Linked DNA regions of Homo sapiens: regions 2, 3 and 4 are each linked to region 1. Evidence: fine-mapped expression QTL. A gene starts in region 1. Each other region holds a variant in brackets. All regions are shown on one strand. Distances are from middle to middle.

Region 1 (5,192 bases):
TGTGTGCTCAACACTCCCTCTTGCTGTCATCCTACCACACCTGCAGACTGGAGGTAATCCAGATGCAAGGCCGTCGAGTCCCGCAAACACCCACCTGCCTCTTAATTTTCCAAGTGAGACCTACATTTCCTCAAGCGTGAAGCTCAATAAAATCAACTATTGTTTTCCGTTTTCATCACGAGCGCCACTTTCCCCCTATTTGTTCACCGCCTCCACTCCACAAGAACTGCTCTTGACTTGGCCAACTTTCTGGGACACCCTCACTACAAGGATTTATGAGTCAAACAGGTTTTTGTGCTAGCCTGGAAATCTAACTGCTGACAGCAGTTGTTTCAAGAAGAAAATGCTGTTTTGGAACCAAACAGCAGGCTGCCAACTGAAACAACATAAACCCACCTCCAAGTTCAAATGAAACAAACAAACAAAAAGACTGGTCCAAGTGAGGCAAGCTGTGGTGGCTCACACCTGTAATCCCAGCACTTTGGGAGGCCAAGGTGGGCTGATCACGAGGTCAGGAGTTCGAGACAAGCCTGGCCAACACAGTGAAACCCGTCTCTACTAAAAATACAAAAATTAGCTGAGCGTGGTGGTGGGCGCCTGTAATCCCAGCTACTCAGGAGGCTGAGGCAGGAAAATCACTTGAACCCGGGAGGTGGAGGTTGCAGTGAGCCGAGATTGTGCCACTGCACTCCAGCCTGGGCAACAGAGCTAGACTCTGTCTTAAAAAAAAAAAAAAAAAAAAAAGACTGGTCAAAGTGGCTTACGTCTGTAAGATCAGCACTTTGGGAAGTGGAGGCAGGAGGATCTCTTGAGGCCAGGAGGTTGAGACTAGCCTGGACAACACAGTGAGACTCTATCTCTACAAAAAATTTTATAAATCAGCTAGGTGTGGTGGTGCAGGCCTGTAATCCCAGCTACTCAGGAGGCTGAGGTGGGAGGATCAATTGAGCCCAGGAATTTGAGGTTACAGTGAGCTATAATCATGCCACCATAAACACGCCTGGAGGACAGAGTGAGGCCCTGTTTCTAACATACACACACATATACACACAGAAACATCTCGAGAGGACACCTCCAAATGATGAAGCTATTTTGTTGGGTACTGCGGTGGCACCTGTGATTCCTCAAGTAGCTTGGAATCAGCGTGCTAACACCATAAAGTGGCTGCAAAAGTCCCAGTGAAGTCACTGCTGAGAGCAAACAGGCCTTACAGAGAAGTTCCAAGGGGACAGGAAATTTCCAGAGGCTTGAGAGGACAATGTTCAGGGGAATAAGTACTTGAAGGGAATTATCTAACAAGGTGTTAAAGTAACTAGCTTCTTAGACAAGATGACATCAGGAGGAAAAAAAAACTTATTAAGGCAAACATGTCAGTTTCAGGCCAACTAAGGCTGTCAGAGAGACATGGAACACAAGAAGAGAAGAGTTTTGAAATGTATTCCCATCAAGAGCCAAGAATAATGAACTTTTGAATGTAAAACTTAGTGTGTTCCAAAACAAGAAAGGAAAAATAACTTGTTACTCGGAATCGAAGCCAAAAGGAATCTCATTGCTTGGGGAGGAGGGATGGGAGGGTGGGGGTGGTCCTTGGCCTGGGAAGGAAAACTCCACCAGGCCTTCGGAGCTGGGCACGCCCTGTTCCCACAATTAAGAAAAAAAACGACGACCTAGAGCTCAAGGCCGGTGCTGACATCTGACCTACTGGATGGCAGCCGCCTGTAGGAACATCACCATAGACTATTGGAATTTTCTGGCAAGTACTGGGCACTAAATCAGAGATGTGTTTTTAGAGAATTCCATGCCAATACTGCTGTATAGAATCTTTTATTCATACTTTCCCACTAGGTTTGGGCCCCTCTAAGCTTTCACGAGTCAAAGACCCCTCCTGCTTGCTGAAACCACCCACGGAAGGCCGGACACCGAGGACCTGGCCGCCCAAGCAGAGGCGACTGACAAGCGCGGTCCGGGCTGGACGGCCCCACCTTCCCCGCCCGGGAGAGCCAGGCCGGACAGCGGCCTCCCTCAGACCCGTCCCCAAGGCCGAGCCTCGCCCTGGGCCGTGCTGGTGCCCCATTCGGGACGGAGCGGTGGCCCGTCAGCACTTCCACGGCCTCCTCAGCAGGCCAGATGGGCAGGGCCGGCCTGGTGTCTCCCCGCCTGGCCGCGCGCTCGCGGGCAGCGATGACCCCAGGCAGCGGGCGACCCCAGGCGGACGGCAGGCCGGGTCTGCTCACTCACCGTTCGCTGCCGCGGGCGCCTGCGGGGGCGTCTACATGCCGGACCGAGCCCGCAGGCCCCGCCGCCGCGCCGCCGCCAGCCGTCGCTACCTGGCCCTTGGCGCCCTGGCCGCCTGTTGCCCCATGGCCGCCCGGACCCCGGCGCCGGCGCCGCCGAGCAGCAATGCGCCGCGCCCGCCCACTGCGCAGGCGCACCCGCCACGCATGCGCGCTGCCGCGCACGTGGGGCGTCCCGCGCGTCTGCCGGGTCCCACCGGCGCCGGGACACCCCGCGCGGGCGGGAGGCGGCGGGCGTGGCGGGAAAGAGGCGGGCGGTGGGGAAGAGGGGCGAATCGCGGTGGAGAGCAGTGACCAGGGAGTGGAGGCGGGCAGCGGGGACAGGGGCGGGCGTCCGCGACTCGGGTAGGCGGGGGTCGGCGCCCCGAGGAGGGCGGCCCCCGGCTCCCGTCCCCACTCACCTGCCGCGTCCGGAGGGCGCCCCCGGGTCCGCCCGCCACGTCTACGCCTAGGCGCCCCCGACATTGTGATCCCAGCCCGGCGTCCCGCCCCCAACTCACCGCCACCGCGGGCGGGACCTCCCGGACCACGTGGGCCGGCTCAGGGGAGTGCAGGTGCCCCGCGAGAGCTGGCCCCGCCCGCCGCCGCTTCCCTAATTACCGGGCTGTGACACGGTGTGGGCCGAGCCGGATTTGGGAACCGAAACTTAGAGCAGCTGCGGCAGCGCTGCGCTCCCTCGGGGCTGTCCGTCGGGGCTGGGAGGGCGGCCCTGCGCCTGGGGGAACCGCGATCGGCCTCACGCCCACCTCTAGCGGCCAGGTGCGCCTTGCACGCCCACGAACGTCCTCAGAGGTCTACGCTTGGGATCCCAAGGCTGGCAGTGGAGGGAGGACCCGGTGGCCTGGGGCACCTCTAGGGGGACCAGGGAGCCGTGTTTTGCGCACCCCACAGGCTGGAGGACTCGGGGAGTTGGGGGAGGAGGCCAAAGCCACAGGAGCGGACTTTGTAGTGTTTGTTGGAACTGCGGGTCCCACCCAGCCCGCACTTGCTGAACTGGTGGCTGCTCATCAGCGCCTTCAGGCCTCAAATATCCCAATAATGTGCCCTATACCCAGTTCTCAGCTCTCGAGTCACTGTCAGGTAAACTGGCAATGCACGACCAGCTGCTCTAACCTGCTGGTCCCCCAGGTGCCAGACATTGTTTTGTTTTTCTGAGATAGTGTCTCATTCGTCCCCCAGGCCGGAGTCCAGTGGCGGGCTCACGGCTCACTGCAGCCTTGACCTCTCAGGTGCAAGCGATCCTTCCACTTCAGCTTCCCTAGTAGTTGGGACTACAAGTAGGTCCCGCCACACTCGACTACTTCATTCATATATATATATATTTGTGTGTGTGTGTGTGTGTGTGTGTAGAGATGAGGTTTTACCATTTTGCCCAGGCTGGGTCTCAAACTTCACCCGCCTCGGCCTCCCAAAGTACTAGGATTATAGGCGTAAGCCACTGCACCTGGCCCAGCCATTGTTTTCTGAGGTTCAGTCCCTGTCTATACTTTCTGTGTGATCACCTGGCCCAGGGTCGGTGTGGACCTGAGTCCTCTGCAGCCCTTCCCCACACCCGCATACCTGCTCTCTGGTCAGGACTCCTGGGACTTGAATCCAGAGACACGGAACACGGCCTGGCCAAGTCTTCCTGAAAAACACAGCTCTTCAGTTCAGGACCACAGTGAAGTACAGGGCACCAAGGGTGACTGGAAAGGGAAGCAAGGATCATGAGAACTTGGGGGATTTCTTAAGCTCTGTAACTTCTCCCGGGGTTATTTTGCAAACCCAACTGTTTCAAAGTGACCACCAGCCACACCCACAGAAGCGGCCTTGAGCTGCCCAGTTCTTTTTCTTTGGCGGGGGGAGAGGGGGCGGATAAGATCATTAACATAATAATGCGTGAGCTGAGTTTTTGCATATGATCATTAGCATAATAATGCTTGATCTAGATGGCGCACCCACAAGCCAGGCACTGAGCCAGGCCTCAGTAGAATCTTCTAGAGTGGAGGCAGTCAACTGCTTCTGCAGAGGCAACCAGTGACTGTCGTGGGCCCCAGGTCACACAGCAGGTGCCCTTCGCGTGTCCCGCTGTGTAGGGAGCTCCAGCAGCTGCCCCGTCTGTGGCATGAAAACCCTTTGTCTACCCTGGGCCTGGGCACTGCCTGCAGGAGAGCTTCCCTGTTTCAGAGATGAGAAAACAAAACCAGGGCTGTGGTTTCCTTCAGCTGACAGGTTGTGCAATTTCTCAGGGCAGGCCCCGGATATGACCTTGAAGATTCAGGGGCCAAGATCTCACACCCACACCTCACCCCAGGCCTGGCCAGCAATAACTAAGACCAAAGCTGGGAAGGCTCCTTAGGGCACCCAGAATGGTCCAAGAGGCAGCTTTGCTTGGGCTGAGACCAAAGGGAAGAGATGTTCCCGCAGCAGGAACAGAAGGGTCCAGGGCTATCATGGGGGCTTCTGCCAGATGGTGCACAGGAAGAGGCTCTGCCTTCAAGGGATTGGGGGTCAGGAAAGGCCCCCTCCTGCCTGACCAGGCCCCAGGGATGGGGCAGCAGTGGGTGGCATCCCCTGCCCTGACCTTCCTCAGCCCCAGGGCTGCCATTGCTCAAGGTGGCAGTGGACTCTTCACATAATTTCGCATTGTTTTTTGTATTCTTTAAGGATGGCTCCCATGTTGTTTACTTCAGAACCCCCAAAACCTGGACCCATCCTCTTCTGGGGGTCAGCAGGGATGGGGAGGGTGGAGGGAGAAGGGGGAACGGAGGCCATGAGGGATGGAGCAGGATGGGGTGCACTGGGGTACAGGTTGCTCCTGGGGAGGCTGAGGAGAGAGGGAAGTTGGCTTCAGGTGGCCTGGCTCCAGTAAACTGGGTGAACGAAGTCTGCCCAGAACCCACAAGGGTAAGTGGCCTG
Region 2 (5,192 bases), 25 kb before region 1:
TCCTAAGCCCACGGCTGGGCTTCCCCTGTGCCCAGGGTCATGGCGGACTTCAAGCCAGGCCGGCTGCCCAGAATCACACTCAGGGTTTTTGGACGCTCAAGTCCACAGATGCTGAGGTGCCCAGACGAGGGTGAGCAGGGAGACACATGCCTCGGAGAACGTGCCCAGGCTGGGCCAGGCGGCTGCGGGAAGCTCCTCACGGGCAGAGGAGAACGTCTTGTGCCTTCCTTATCGATCTCCAGCAGATGAGGGCAACTTCGTGTGCAAAACTCAGAGAGCAGTTACTCAAAAAAAAGACACCCGGGCAGCAGTAACCAGGACACCAGGGTCCGACCACGGCCTCCACACACCTGTGCCCGTGGAAGACGCGGGCGCCGGGGTAGGCAGCATCCACGTGCTCCACAGCTGCCGGTGCTGGGCAGGCTGGAGACTCACGGGAGAGGCAGGAGGAGAATCAGCGTGTTGAGTCCCTCGCTGTGTTAGTGTGAAAAATTCTCATTACAGTTGCAAATAAAAGGGATCACGATCACTAGCCCCGGAAACCCTCATCTCCCGGACCATCAGGATCGCACTGAACAGAATGGTCCCCTAATGGTCCCTGAGGACAGCGTCTTGCAGAACATAAATGTAAACATTGAATGGCAGACGACTCCCTTCCCCTTGAAATCTTCACAAAAGTGTGTACGAGAAAGTATGTACATCAGCACTTCAGAAAGTTTAAAAGAGTCTCTAAAAAGTATATACAGGATTTAAACTACCTTCCTGGGAGCAGAAGCTACGTGAGGAATGTGTGGGTCGCTGGCGATGCCAGCCCCCTTCCCGCTGAGTGTCCCAGACTCAGTGCTGGCCTCAAGCGGGGAGGGCTGGATGGCAGGGGACGCATCCAACCCTCTCCAGAAACTGAGCAGAACAAAACCGCCTTGCCAGCCACTGGCAAGACCATGCTTTCAATGGCGCCTCCGCCAGGGGCTTCCCTGCAGAAGTTTTAGGGGAAGAGGTGCAGGTCAAGGGGAAAAGCATGGCAGCTCAAGGAAGGTTTTTGGCTGAGACATTTATTATCAACATTGAAGGACAGGTCGAGTCATTCTGACTCCTCTGAATTTCAACCGACTGATTTGCGGAAAAATATCCTGGCATGGAAATTGCGGCAGCTGGAGGCCGCGCTCCAGGGACCCACCGCGGGGTGTCAGCAGGACAGAAGCACTCCCAGCCCATTTCTCACGCTTCTTTAGAAATGCAAAAAAAGTCAGACATTTTAAAAAAACAGCTGATCTGGACAAAAGGCAGACCCAGGCTCTAACCCAGCTACAGAAAGGAAGTGGCCGTGCCACTGAGACAGGCGGTCACAGACACACGCAGATTGGTCTGTCCCCAGAGGGCGCTTGGAGGGCAGCGGAAGGATTCGGGCCTGGATAGGGGCTTGACCTAGCCCTCCTCCTCCTCCTCCTCCTCCTCCTCGAAGTGGGCTTGCTTCTTCCGGACGTTCCAATGCAGGCACTGGGCGAGGCTCTCAAACCAGTCGCTCACGGGGTCCCGCACACAGATGGAGGGGAGCGGGTAGCATGAGGTAGTGATGCTGATGCTGGGACGGGAGAGCAGCAGCCTGAGCCAGGGCTTCCAGAAAGGCCCACCCCCGGCCAAGAACCCTTCCTCCCTCCCTCCCTGGGAATGGCCGGGACTCTTTTCCTGTGGGGCCGGGCAGCCCCTCCCCGAGGCAGGCTTGAGCAGTGCCCCATGGGTGCTGGGACAGAGCCATCCCAGGTCCTGGAGGGGACGGTGCAGGGAACTGACAAACTCTGCCCCAGGGCCCTCAGGGGTGAGGTCCCAGGAGGTGGGTGGGGGTGGGCAGCAGTGCCAGGGGGGACACCCTCAGGCCTCTGCTGGGGCCAGGCCTGCATGTGCCACCGTATGCGACCCGCTGCCCCCAGGACGGGTGCCCCGACTGTGATGCTGCAAGACCCAGGGACTCAGGCCCTGTGGTGCCCTAGGGGACAAGCTGTGTCTACAGGCCAACCGCAAGAGGGCAGGCGCTGCCTGGCCCGGGGAGGAGGTTGGCAGGCAGCGCCCAGCCCGGCATGCAGCCCACACCTGTCTCCATGGCGGATCTCTTGTCTCTTCCGTCCATCAAAGGACACCCATGCTGTGTTCCTTGCTTCAGGTGACAGCATGATCTGAGGGTCAAGCAGGGAGAGGTGTGGGCCCCCAGCTGTGGGGAGGACGCTTCTAGGCACCCACCCCTGAGTGCTCGCCAGAGGTCGAAGGTTGGGCAGCTCTGACCCTGCCTTGCGGACGGTGCAGTGCACGTCCTACAGGCACCGGCCCAGCTCAGCACCGCCAGAGACCAACAATGGCAGAAAGCCCCTCAGACCCGGGCCCTGGGCACCTTGATGGACAGAACTCGGGCACCAGCAAGGGAAGGCTTGCATCTGAGGGGGCACAGGATGGCCCTAGGATGACGAGGCCGCGTCTGAGGCTGGAGCCAGCATGGCAGAGCGGGGTGCTAGGTCCCGGCTTTGTGTTGCACGGGGTCAAATGACTCACAAACCGGAAAAGGAGTGTCGTTGGCTCTGACCTTCAGCTCGACCCCTGCGGGGACCACGATGGGCCGGAAGGACAGCGAGTGGGGGCAGATGGGCGTGATCATGATGGCCGGCACGTTGGGGTGGATCATGGAGGCCCCGGCCGCGGCCGCATACGCCGTGCTGCCCGTCGGGGTGGACACGATCACTCCTGACAGGGACAGGCGCAGGCGTCACTCCCGCCCGAGGGACGCTCAGGGCCCCAGGACAGTGCTGCGGGCCTTACCGTCGCCCTGCACCGTGGTGATGAGGTGTCCGTCCAGGTAGACATCCACATTGGACAGGTAGGAGGAGGGGCCTCTGTCAATCACCACCTCATTCAGGACCTGGAGGGGCGACAGCATTGCACACTCAGGGCGGGGGATGCCGCACGGCTCGCAGACACCCTCCGTCTCACCCAGCCGGGCTCTCCGGAAGGTCCTCATCCCTGGGACCGAAGTCGCCCCACCCTGGGCCCCTCACCGAGGCCGAGGCGCCTCCACTCACCTGGTACTGCATGGCCTGCTTCCCGACATCCATGTCCAGGCCTGCAGCCTGCGAGCCGTTCTCACCCAGCCCATTGTGCACGGCCGTCTTCTTCCCCC[G/A]GAGCTCCTTCACCACCCTGACCTTCAGCCGACTCCGGAGAACAACAGCTGCGTTCCCTGAGGTCCAGCAGGAGTCAGAGGGCATGCATCAGGGAAGTCAGTGGGGTCAGGGGCCCCACCCCAGGGAGGCCAGTGGGAGTCAGAGGGCTCTTTCTTCTCCCAAGTTGACACACTTCTGTGCCTTTTTCTTTTTATTTTGAGATGGAGTCTCACTCTGTCACCCAGGCTGGAATGCAGTGGTGTGATCTTGGCTCACTGCAACCTCTGCCTCCCAGGTTCAAGTGATTCTCCTGCCTCAGCCTCCCAAGTAGCTGGAACTACGGGTGCGCACCACCACGCCCAGCTAATTTTTGTATTTTTAGTAGAGACGGGGTTTCACCGTGTTGGCCAGGATGGTCTCATCTCTTGACCTCGTGATCCGCCCGCCTCGACCTCCCACAGTGCTGGGATGACAGGCGTGAGCCACCGCGCCCGGCCGACACTTCTGTGCCTTCTGAGAGTGAGAATCAGCTCACTTCTGCCCAACACACATGGCAGCTTCAACCTGTGATCTGCTGAAACTTCTCAGTGTCAGTAAAAGGTTTGAACCACTCAAGATTTAGAAATCCCTGAATCTTGAAACCTTTAAATGTTGCTCCATGCATCATTAAATGAAAATAAACCCCCCGCAAGCAAGCGAGACAGCAGCGCCATGATCAGAGCTCCTGTGGGCTCCAGAACATTCCAACTCACCCTCTATCACCTGAGTAACTTGGGACTGAAAGTTCTCAAAGCTGAATGGGGTCAGGAAGCCCAGGGAGCCCAGGTGGAAGGCCATGACCGGAGGGACGCTGCCCTGTGAGCCGACGGAGAGGTCACTCAGTGCCCACGCCGTGCACCCCCGCACCACCCAGCTTTCCAGCAGCACCTCAGGAGGGACCCAGCTCTGTGGGGACAGCACCCCGACCCTCTGCAGGAGGGACTGGCCATGTGGACAAGCGGAGGGGGACGTCGCAGGCCAGGGTGGGCCGGGCCACCAGGGCCAAGGTTGGTGTGGGGAGCTGGTGAGGAACAAAGGTGGCAGGGCTGAGCGGCCCCCTGGGCACGGAGGGCTGGGGGAGCTGGCGAGGGCGGGTGGGAGGCAGCCTTGGGGTCGGAGCCTCGCGCCCCACAGGTGCTAATGGGGAGATGGGGAGAAAAGCAGGGCGGGCTGCGGGCATTTCCGGTGTCACCAACATGCAGTGGGCCAAGGGCAGAGCCAGGGTCCCCCACACAGCGTGGCCCTACAGCCCCAGGGGAGAGCTGTGCTGCTGAGAAACCAGGAAGAGGAGCTCAAGGGAGGCCCAGAGGGGATGGGCCAGTAGGCGAGGTCGTTTCCCAGGACCCACCACCCTGCGCCACTCCCTGCTGTCCCAGGCGGGCGCTGGCCACCCCCAGCCGTAGCACTGTGTCCACACTGCCCCTGGCCCCACCGTCGCACCCCACCGGGCTGCCACCATGGGCCTCAGTGCTGGCCGCTCTAGGTGACTGCTCTCGTATAAAGGGGTGAAAAGCAATGGAAGCCATGCTTGTGAGCCCCTCGTTACGCAGCACCTAGACTAGAACCTGGTGTGGGTCTGGAAATGTCAGCGCTTCACCTGGAAAAGCGAGGAAGCGTACAGCAGCGTCCCGTCTCCCCCCAGGCAGATGATGAAGTCTATCTGATTGGAAATGTCATCATAATCTAGGAAACACAAAGCAAAACCAAGAAGAGGCTGTCACACAGTGGCCCCTCTGTGGCGCAGTGCGCAGACACCAATGACAAGGGCAACAGTGCCAGAAGCTTCCAATGGGGCGGGGAACTGTGCTGGAGAAACCAAGGACAGAGCTGCTGACAGCCCACCTTCTCGAAAGGTACAGAATTTCTTCTTCACTGCCCCAAAGCTTTCATCGCTGGCGATGGCAGGGTCTTCTAGCACTTTCTTTTCCACATACACGATCATGTTCTCCTGGAAGCAAAGTGCCAACCTGCTCATTCCACCTGCAGACCCCACCCTCCTGCAGGGAGGTT
Region 3 (5,000 bases), 370 kb before region 1:
TGTCTCTGTACCACCACACCCAGCAAATTTTATTTTTTTGTAGAGAGTGGTCTCACTATGTTGCCCAGGCTGTTGCTGGCACTATTCCTAGGCACAATCTCATCACTCATCAACATGGGAATTGTGACCTGCTCCGTTTCCAGCCTGGGCTGGTTCACCCCTCCTTAGGCAACGTGGTGGTCCCTTGCTCCCAAGAGGTCACCATATTGATACCACACTTAACATGGACACCCCATCAGCATAGCAAACTACAGCCCAGAAGTCAGTCTCCAGGGATCCTCTGGCCTCAGCCTCCTGATTAGCTGGGACTACAGGAAGCACCACCACGCCCCGCATGATGGTTTCTGCAGATGTCCAGAATTTCAGTGGGACCCACATACTCACCCATACCTTAACTAAATTCCCAATGAGCGCTGGATACTTCAGTCCATGTTCCTGGCTAGCAGCTGTAATTCGATTAATCCAGAGCTGAAATAAGAAAACATGAAGATACTTAAAAATGACTTCTGGATGTTATGTCCCAGCAAAGCCTCTAATTGATCTAAAGAATATTTTTCTAAAAGTAAATAGCAAAATCAGTGAGCTATGATGGTGCCATCACTCTGGCCTAAGCGAAATCAAGACCCTGTTTCAAAATTAAAAACAGCAAAAACCCAGCTGGGCACGGTGTCTCACGCCTGTAATCCCAGCACTTTGGGAGGGCAAGGCAGGCAGATCATTTCAGATCTGGAGTTCGAGACCAGCCTGACCAACATGGCGGAACCCGGTCTCTACTAAAAATACAAAAAATAGCTTGGTGGCGCACACCTGCAGTCACAGTTACTCGGGAGACTGGGGCGGGAAAATCGCTTGAACCCGGGAGACGAGGTTGCATTAAGCCTAGATCGCGCCATTGCACTCCAGCCTGGGTGACAGCGCGAGACTCCGTCTCGGGGTAAGAAAAAAAAACCGGGGTACGTTAGATGCTAGGTTCATGAGGCTGAGACGGGAGTGGTGAGGCGCAGTAATGAGGCGGCACGTGGACAGAGTGGAGGCGCCAGCCTCCCAGAAATGCGGGGGGTTCCGGGTGGGCAGAGCTTGGCAGCAGGCGTGGTCTCTTCGAGGAGCACCACGGCAGCAGATAGTAGCCCTGGAGGGTTGGCAAGGGGCTGGGTTGACTTCAGCTGCCAAAGGGAAGGGAAGCCACCGGAGGGATGAGAGCAGCAGCGACTAGGGCGGTGGCTGGCGACGCAGGGAGAGTGTCAAGGCGGCTCTGCAGTGGCCCGGGCGAGGGGCTGGAGCAGGGGGTGACAGTGGGGGTGGCGGCGGGGCGGGAGAACGGATGTCCCACAGTTTGCCTGCGGGGCGACATAATTTGTCGGAGTTTCGAAGCAAGGTATGAAAGGAAGGGGCTGAGGGTGGCCGGGCGGCTGCACACTAGCTGGGTCGCGGCGCAGAAACGCAGGGGCCGCGAGTGCGCTGGCCGGCGGGTGTCCCGGGTCCACGCTTACGGTCCTCATGTTCTTTTTCTTCAGGTATCGGGCTTTGGTGCATTTCACAAAGGCTCGAATCACGGTTCTGACCGCCAACCTGTAGCAGCGATTTTTCCTTCCCCGGAAGTGCTGGGACAGAAAACGAGAAACCAGGGTTGTCAGCGGGGCCCGCGCCGGCCGCCCCTTGGCCCGCGGGATACCCCGGGCGCCCAGTGCCCAGGCCGGGCAGGCGGCACTCACCCTGGCGTGCTTCAGCACCTCCTGGATCCGAAAGTAGCGGTCGGTGACGCGATTCCGCAGCCAGAGCTGCGCGGTGAGGAAGACCATGGCGCCTGCAGGCCGGCGTCCCGAACACTCAACAACGCACGCGCAGCGCCGCTGCCATCTTGCCCGGGTCGGAAATGGTGGTCACGAGCGCTTCCGGGTCAGCCCCTGCGATACTTCCGGGGCGAAGGTCGTCTCCCGTCAGCCCGCGGGTGCCCAGTTGTGCTCCTGAACTCGCGGTGGTGGTGCGTGTTGGGGAGCGGATGTGGGGCCGCGGCGGGGACTGAAAGGAGAACGGGGCCGCAGCGCCCGTGGCTATTCGCGGACGATGGATAAACAGCAGCGCACGCGGACCGTCCCGGAGCACGGCCCCGGCCGCAGCTGTGGCTCCGAGGGCACCGTGAGGGCAGCGGACCCGGGTCGGGGGCCCCGCGGCCGGGGAGCTCGGGTGCGGCGCGGGCGGGGAGGGGCAGGCCGCCCCCTGGGGCCACGAGGATGTTCAGGAACCGAGGTGGAGATGGTCGCATCGGTGTGAAAGTGCCCGTTGCCTCTGAACCTTGCACTTTGTTTACTTACTCATTTTGAGACGGGGTCTCGCCCGGTCGCCCTGGCTGGGGTGCAGCGGCCCGACCTCGGCTCGCCGCGGCCTCTGCCTTCCTAGTAGCTGGGACGTCAGGCGCGCGCCGCCACGCCCGGCTAATTTTTTGTGTTTTTTGTAGAGGGGGCGTCTTCCCGCGTTGGCCAGGCTGTTCTCGGACTGCTGGCTTCTGCTGGGATTACAGGCCTGAGCCACCGCGCCATGCCTGGAAATTCTCAGCTTCGAAATGGTAAATGTGATCGCTGTGGTGCTGATGCCTGTAATCCCAGCACTTTCGGAGGCCGAGGGGGGAGGAACACTTGAGTCCAGGAGTTCAATACCAGCCTGG[G/A]CAACATAGTGAGACCCCATCTCTACAAAAAATCAAAAAGAAATTAGCCGGGAGCGGTGGTGGCGCGCGCCTGAGGTCCCAGCTACTCAGGAGGCTGAGACGGGAGGCTCGCCTGAGCTCTGGAGGTGGAGGCTGCAGTGAGCTCAGATTGCACCACCGCACAACAGCCTGGGCAGCGGAGCCAGAGTCTGTCCCAAAAAAATAAGAAGTTTTATATTATGTGTAATTTTATATTTCTGCTATATTATCGAAAAATTGGGGGTGTGCAGTTTCTTTATAACAGTTTATTATACTTGGATATTTTTTAAATCATAGAAGAGTTGGAATACAAGTACAAGGAAAACTCCCCAGTGTTCACTACCAAAATGTGCCAGCTGTTTTCATTTGTTCCATTTGTTTAATACTCTCGAACCAAATTCACCTACTATTTACGTTTTGCTCCATTTTTGAATCATTCTCTCTGTAAATATAAACATAATGGATTTTTTTCCTAAACCATTTGAGACGCTGGAGACACCTAAACACTTTGCTGTGTATTTACTCTTAGGAACCACACCGTAGAATGGTCAAAATCCGGACCCAGCCCACACTCCAGATTTAACTCGCTTCAAATGTCTTTTATACCTTTTTTTCCCTGTTGAGGATTCAGTCTAGGATGACGCACTGCATTTGTTGTTGTGTTTCTTGTTTTGTTTTGTTTTTTTCTGTTTTTGAGACGGAGTTTTGCTCCGTCGCCCAGTCTGGAGTACAAAGGTGCGATCTCGGCTGACCGCAACCTCTGCCTACCCGGTTCAAGTGATTCTCCTGCCTCAGCCTCCCGAGTATCTGGGATTACAGGCGCACACCGCCACTCCCAGCTAATTTTTGTATTTTTAGTAGAGACGGGATTTCACAATGTTGGCCAGGCTGGTCTCGAACTCCCGACCTTAAATGACCAGGCTGACCAACATGGTCAGCTACTCAGGAGGCTGAGGCAGGAGAATCGCTTGAACCCGGGAGGCAGAGTTTGCGGTGAGCCGAGATCCCGCCATTCATTGCACTCCAGCCTCGGAAACTAGCAAAACTCCATCTTAAAAAAAAAGAGGAGGCCGGGTGCAGTGGCTCTGCACAACACTTTGGGAGGCCGAGGCAGGTGGATCACCTGAGGTCAGAAATCCGAGACCAGCCTGGCCAACATGGTGGAACCCCATCTCTACTAAAAATGCAAAAAGTAGCCGGGCGTGGTAGCGGGCCCCAGTAATCCCAGCTGAGGTGGGAGAATTGCTTGAACCCGGGAGGCCAAGGCTGCAGTGAGCCAAGATCGCACCACTGCACTCTAGCGTGGGTGACAGATCAAGACCTTGTCTCAAAAAACAAGAAGAAGAAAAACTACTTTTTTTTTTTCAGATGGGGTCTCACTCTCACCCAGTCTGGAGTGCAGTGGCGCCATCTCAGCTCATTGCAGCCTCTGCCTCCTGGGCTTGAGTGATCTTCCCACCTCGACCTCCTGAGTAGCTGAACCACAAGTGCATGCCTGGCCAATTTTTGTATTTTTGGTAGAAATGGAGTTTCACCATGTTGCCCAGGCTGGTCTCAAAACTGGCCTCCCAAAGTGCTGGGATTACAGACACAACTGGCCTACCTGCAGGATTTTCAGTTTATGGACATGACTGACTGGAGACATGGAGAAGCTGTTGTTATTGGAGATTTTTATTACTCGCATTTCCTGAGCGATGGGGACACTCACTGTGGGGAAAAGCAAGAGAGATCAGATTGTTACTGTGTCTGTGTAGAAAGAAGTAGACATAGGAGACTCCATTTTGTTCTGTACTAAGAAAAATTCTTCTGCCTTGGGATCCTGTTGATCTGTGACCTTACCCCCAACCCCGTGCTCTCTGAAACATGTGCTACGTCCACTCAGGGTTAAATGGATTAAGGGCGGTGCAAGATGTGCTTTGTTAAACAGATGCTTGAAGGCAGCACGCTCCTTAAGAGTCATCACCACTCCCTAATCTCAAGTACCCAGGGACACAGAAACTGCGGAAGGCCGCAGGGTCCTCTGCCTAGGAAAGCCAGGTATTGTCCAAGGTTTCTCCCCATGTGATAGTCTGAAATATGGCCTCGTGGGAAGGGAAAGACCTGACCGTCCCCCAGCCCGACACCCGTAAAGGGTCTGTGCTGAGGAGGATTAGTATAAGAGGAAGGAATGCCTCTTGCAGTTGAGACAAGAGGAAGGCATCTGTCTCCTGCCTGTCCCTGGGCAATGGAATGTCTCAGTATAAAACCCGATTGTATGTTCCATCTACTGAGATGGGGAAAAACCGCCTTAGGGCTGGAGGTGGGACCCGCGGGCAGCAAT
Region 4 (5,192 bases), 95 kb after region 1:
GTGTCTCCTCGATCTAACCTCTAATAGCTGGGCACCCCACCTCTCCTTTTAATAACCCCTCCACCGACCATCACAAAAACAGAAAGACCAAGACTTCCAGACTGGACTCCAGGCCAACAGGCTGTTAGCCGGCGGTTGGCACTTAGTTGCCCTATACCCATTTTGAGCTTCAGATATTCAAGGCATGGCTCTGCACAGCCAACAGATTTGCCTCCCCTCAGTGCTCAACATCACCACCCTCTACATGTGCAAAGCACACACAGAAATCATCCTGGCCTCCTTCCTTTCCCTACTCCCCTACACCCGGTCCATCAGCAACCTGGCTGACTCTACCACCCATTTCTTCCCATTTCCTTAGTCTCCATCCTCAGCCAAACCACGCCATTTCTCATCAACAGTCTCCTTAAAATGACCTCTGTCTCAATCTGTGCCCCCGACAATCCATTTTTCATTCAGCAATCTGAACAATCTTTTTTCTTTTTTTTTTTTTCTTAAGACAGGGTCTCGCTCTGTTGCCCAGACTCGAGTACAGTTGTGTGATCATAGCTCACTGCAAACTCCAACTCCTGGGCTGAAGCGATGCTCCCTCCTCAGCCTCCCCAGTAGCTGGAACTACAAGTGTATGCTACAATGCCCAGCTAATTTTTTCTTTTAAGTAGAGACAGAGTCTTGAACTCCTGGGCTCAAGCAATCTTCCTGTCTCAACCTCCCAAACTGTTAGGACTATAAGCATGAACCACTGCACCCAGCCTCAACAATCTTTTAAAATTCACCTTTTGTCACTTGAGGCTTAAAATTTTTCAACGGCTTCCCACTGCATCAAGGAAAACATCCAAGCTCTCTGCCAGTTTGGAAACTAGAGAATGCACCATCTGCACGAGGACCCTCACCTGGTATAAATCAAGACTGTCCTGGGCAAACTGGGCCTCTGGCACCTGCCTGAGGCCGTGTGGCCAAGGCCTGGCTTCCACCCCTACCTCTGCCCTACAGCTTTGCTCCTGTGTGCTGAGCTTCACCCGCTGTCCCTTCCGCAGGACCTCTGCTGAGCTTCGCCTGCTGTCCCTTCCGCAGGGCCTCTGCAATCACTGCCCTCTCCACCTGAAGCATAGGGGCTCCTTGCCTACCTGGTTCCTTCTCATCCTTCAGGCCTTTACTCTAAATACCCTAAACAATACCCTAAACCAAGTGCCCTCTCCACCCAACAGCTCACAGCACCTACCACAGGCCCAAACTTCGCTTCTTCCAGTTCGCCATCTCCCCACAGAGAATGAACCACCAGTTGCAACTTCTCGGTACTCAACCATCACCAAGCACAGTGTCTTGCTCAAAGTAAGTACTTGGTAAATATTTGTTAAAGAGTTCACTCCATCCCACAGATACCATATTATTAACTGGGCATCCTAAAGCAGGAAGTTCTTGAGGTCACACAGTATAGGAAAGGCTGTGATGAAAAATGGCCACGGTTTCTGCAAGTCCCACCATTAAGGACCAGAGTCTATCTCCTACTCTCCAAGCCTGTGCTAAGCCTTGTTTTTTTTTTTTTCTTCATTTTCGGTAGAGATGCGGTCTCACTATGTTGTCCAGGCTGGTTTCAAACTCCTGGCCTCAAGCCATCCTCCCACCTTGGCCTCCCAAAGGGCTGGGATTACAGGCATGAGGCAGCACTCCTGGCCTATGCTAGGCCTCATAACTTGCAATAAGCAAGGGAATGCAACAGAGGTGACACTGTGACTTCTAAACATGTCCTCAAGTAGCCTGTCAAACTCTGCTCCTGCCCTTTTGGAATTCAGCCACTATGGGAGGAAGCCTGAGCTAGACTGTTGGAGAGGCAGGCTGAGGAGATCAGAGGCACCCTGGCTGAAAGCCCATGTGGGTGAGGGCAATGGGAAGCACAAGCCAGCCTACCTGCCAACTGTTAATTGCCCTTGCTAGCGTGGCCAGCACAGTGAACAGAGATGAGCCCTGCCCACATCCATACTCCCACATGATGATGAACAAGGACTTACTGTTTTAAGTCGCTTCATTTTGGGGTAGTTTGTTACCCAGGAGCATATAACTGATGTAAGGCCATGACAATATGCTCTTCTTAAACTTGGCGCCGAGACTGGACGCAGTGGCTCACACCTGCAATCCCAGCACTTCGGGAGGCCGAGGTGGGCGGGTCACCTGTAATCCCAGCTACTCAGGAGGCTGAGGCAGAAGAATTGCTTGAACCCCAGAGGCAGAGGTTACAGTGAGCCAAGATGGTGCCACTGCACTCCAGCCTGGGCGACAGAGCAAGACTCCATCTTAAATAAACTTGGCACCGAGACTGCTGGACTGGACAATTCTCCATGGTGGAGCAGGATCCCTGTGGCACACCCCAGCTGTCACAACCACCAATGTATCCAGGCAGGCAGCGTGGGGACTAAATACAAGAGGGAACGCATACCTGCCTCTAGGGGACTCAGCACTTTCACAGGGGAAGGAAAGATTCCCTGCTTTGGAGGCATTCTTTATGTCTTCTCATTGACTTCTGATCTAGGTTACTGGTCCCCAAGGACAGTCAGTGGAACAAATGCTGGCAGCAGCCTCGATCCATCCCTGTGGAAGCTACCGAGGACAACACTCTTCAGTTCCCACAAAAGAAAGACTAGCAAAGCATAAACACAACGCGCCTCCTGGCCAGGTGCGGTGGCTCACGCCTGTAATCCCAGCACTCTAGGAGGCCGAGGCAGGCAGATCACGAGGCCAGGAATTCAAGAGCAGCCTGGTCAACATGGCAAAACCCTGTCTCTACTAAAAATACAAAAATTAGGCCGGGCGTGG[T/C]GGCTCACGCGTGTCTGTAATCCTAGCACTTTGGGAGGCTGAGGCGGGCGGACTGCCTAAGCTCAGGAGTTGGAGACCAGCCTGGGCAACACGGTGAAACCCCGTCTCTACCAAAGTACAGAGAAAGCCGGGCGTGGCGGTGTGCACCTGTAGTCCCAGCTACTCGGGAGGCTGAGGCAGGAGAACTGCTTGAACCTTGGAGGCAGAGGTTGCAGTGAGACGAGACTGCACCACTGCACTCCAGCCTGGGAAGCAGAGCAAGACTCCATCTAAAAAAAAAAAAAAAAAAAAAAAAAAAGTACAAAAATTAGCTGGGCATGCTGGCACACGCCTGTAGTCCCACCTACTTGGGAGACTGAGACAGGAGAATTGCTTGAGCCTGTGAGGCGGAGTTGCAGTGAGCTGAGATGGTGCCACTGCAGTCCAGCCTGGGTGACAAAGAGTGACACCCTGTCTCAAAAAAAAAAGACAAAAAAAAAGTGCCTCCTGAGCTTCGTTCTGTGAAGCATCCAGAATCCTTACAGCAGCGGTCACCAACCTTTTTGATGCCAGGGACCGGTTTTGTGAAGGACAATTTTTCCACAGACAGAGGGGATGGTTTTGGGATGAAACTGTTCCACCTCAGATCATCAGGCATTAGATTCTCATAAGGAGTGCACAGCCTACATCCCTCGCGTGTGCAGTTCATGACGGGGTTCACGCTCCTATGAGAATCTAACACTGCCGCTGATCTGACAGGAGGTGGAGCTCAGGTGGGAATGCTCGCTTGCCCACCTCTCACCTGCTGTGCAGCCCGGCTCCTAAGAGACCACAGCCCAGGAGTTGGGGGCCCATGCTTAGAAGACATTTTATCTTTTTCTGGTTTTTTTTTTTTGGAGACAAAGTCTTGCTCTGCCTACCAGTCTGGAGTGTAGTGGTGTGATCTCAGCTCACTGCAACCTCAACCTCTCCAGTTCAAGTGATTCTCATGCCTCAGTCTCCCAAGTAGCTGGGTCTACAGGTGCACGCCACCACACCCCACTAAACTTTTGTGTTTTTAGCAGAGACGGGGTTTTCACATGTTGGTCAGGCTGGTCTCAAACTCCTGGCCTCAAGTGATCCACCCGCTGTGGCCTCCCAAAGTGCTGGGATTACAGGTGTGAGCCATCACACCTGGCCAAGGACACTTTACCTTTTCTATTTTGTTTTGTTTTAGAGGCGGGGTCTTGCTCTGTCACAGGTTGGAGTGCAGTGGCACAATCATAGCTCATTGCAGCCTCAAACTCCTGGGCTCAAGTGATCCTCTCATCTTGGCCTCCCAAAGTGCTGAGCTTACAGGAGTGAGCCACTGCATCCGGCCCCTTTTTCTATGTAAATTATCTTACAAGTTTCTTCAACCTCCAACAGAGACTTCATTTCACAAGGCTGGCCACAAGGGGAATGGGAAGACATGGAAGGCAAGAGAGCTAGAAACACAAGGGGCGAAGGATGAAGCTCTAGGAACTTTAGCAGGTTCAACAGTGTCCCCCCCCCCAAAATTCATGTCTACCTGGAACCTGGGAATGTGACCTTATTTGGAGCGTCTTTCCAGGTATGATTAGTTAAGTTAAAACGAGGTCATACTGAATTAGGGTGGCCCTAATCTAATAACTATGTCCTTATAAGGTGAGTAGAGACACTGAGAAAAGCCCACGTAAAACAGAGGTAGAGAGTGACTCCTCTACAAGCCACACTGCTGGCACCCACCAGAAGCCAGAAAGAAGAAAGGAAGTGTCCTCCCTTGGAGCCTTCAGAAGCACTGGGGCCCTGCCAACACCTTGATTTCAGACTTCTGTCCTCCAGAACTGAGGGAATCAATTCATTCTGAGCCATCCAACTTGTGATGATTTGCTACAGCAGCCACAGGAAACTAACATTGTGTCATTTCTGAAGACCTTTACTAAGCCAGAACCACAAGGGTAGAAATCAAGTGCCCAGATCAGCTTGGAGAAGGACTTGTTTTTTTTTAATAGAGACAGGGCTGGAGTGCAGTCGTACAATCAGGTCACTGCAGCCTCGAACTCCTGGGTTCAAGCAATCCTCCCACCTTAGCCTCCTGGATAGCTGGGACTACAGGTGTACACCATCAGGCCCAGCTAAGAAAAAGAGAGAGCAAGAGAGAGGACATGCATGTGCACACGAGAGAGAGAGAGAGAGAGAGAGCGAGCGTGCATGGCCACGTGCACGAGCCAGTGAGCAAGCGCACACACATGCAAAAATGGGGTCTCACTATGTTGCCTAGGCTGGTCTCAATCTTCCCACCTCAGCCTCCCAAAGTGATAAGTGTCATAGGCATAAGCCACCACACCCAGTCAATGGAGAAGCATTTCAGGAATGAAGGCAGAGTCAAACACCATCAGTAGTAG

The links. PIP is the estimated chance that this variant, and not a neighbour inherited with it, causes the effect.
Region 2: its variant is fine-mapped to the expression of NADK in whole blood (TOPMed, PIP above 0.99).
Region 3: its variant is fine-mapped to the expression of NADK in anterior cingulate cortex (GTEx, PIP 0.99).
Region 4: its variant is fine-mapped to the expression of NADK in whole blood (TOPMed, PIP 0.97).

Annotation. Positions count from the first base shown.
Region 1 is chr1:1,776,051-1,781,242 of GRCh38, forward strand. NADK (NAD kinase) reads right to left here and starts at 2,420. Exons shown (of 12, transcript NM_023018.5): 1 at 2,239-2,420. RefSeq lists a silencer at 1,936-3,135 and enhancers at 4,196-4,365, 4,376-4,435, 4,446-4,515, 4,526-4,625.
Region 2 is chr1:1,751,479-1,756,670 of GRCh38, forward strand. NADK (NAD kinase) reads right to left here. Exons shown (of 12, transcript NM_023018.5): 5 at 5,025-5,130; 6 at 4,780-4,865; 7 at 3,896-3,998; 8 at 3,066-3,220; 9 at 2,806-2,905; 10 at 2,573-2,730; 11 at 2,089-2,171; 12 at 1-1,582. The coding sequence ends at 1,426. LOC112268218 (a long non-coding RNA gene) reads left to right here. Exons shown (of 2, transcript XR_002958243.2): 2 at 1-264. Among named protein-coding and RNA genes, the nearest start is that of NADK, 24 kb to the right of the region's middle. RefSeq lists an enhancer at 1,646-2,175. The variant G/A (reference allele first, on the strand shown) is at 3,164.
Region 3 is chr1:1,405,419-1,410,418 of GRCh38, forward strand. MRPL20 (mitochondrial ribosomal protein L20) reads right to left here and starts at 1,875. Exons shown (of 4, transcript NM_017971.4): 1 at 1,713-1,875; 2 at 1,491-1,601; 3 at 391-468. The coding sequence starts at 1,799. MRPL20-DT (MRPL20 divergent transcript) reads left to right here and starts at 2,930. Exons shown (of 1, transcript NR_170330.2): 1 at 2,930-5,000. It also overlaps the pseudogene RN7SL657P. RefSeq lists enhancers at 1,072-1,738, 1,739-2,406, 1,820-1,949, 2,407-3,073, 3,997-4,884 and 1 more and silencers at 1,590-1,649, 2,130-2,319. The variant G/A (reference allele first, on the strand shown) is at 2,663.
Region 4 is chr1:1,871,527-1,876,718 of GRCh38, forward strand. The region is part of intron 1 of GNB1 (G protein subunit beta 1); the gene reads right to left. Among named protein-coding and RNA genes, the nearest start is that of GNB1, 17 kb to the right of the region's middle. The variant T/C (reference allele first, on the strand shown) is at 2,809.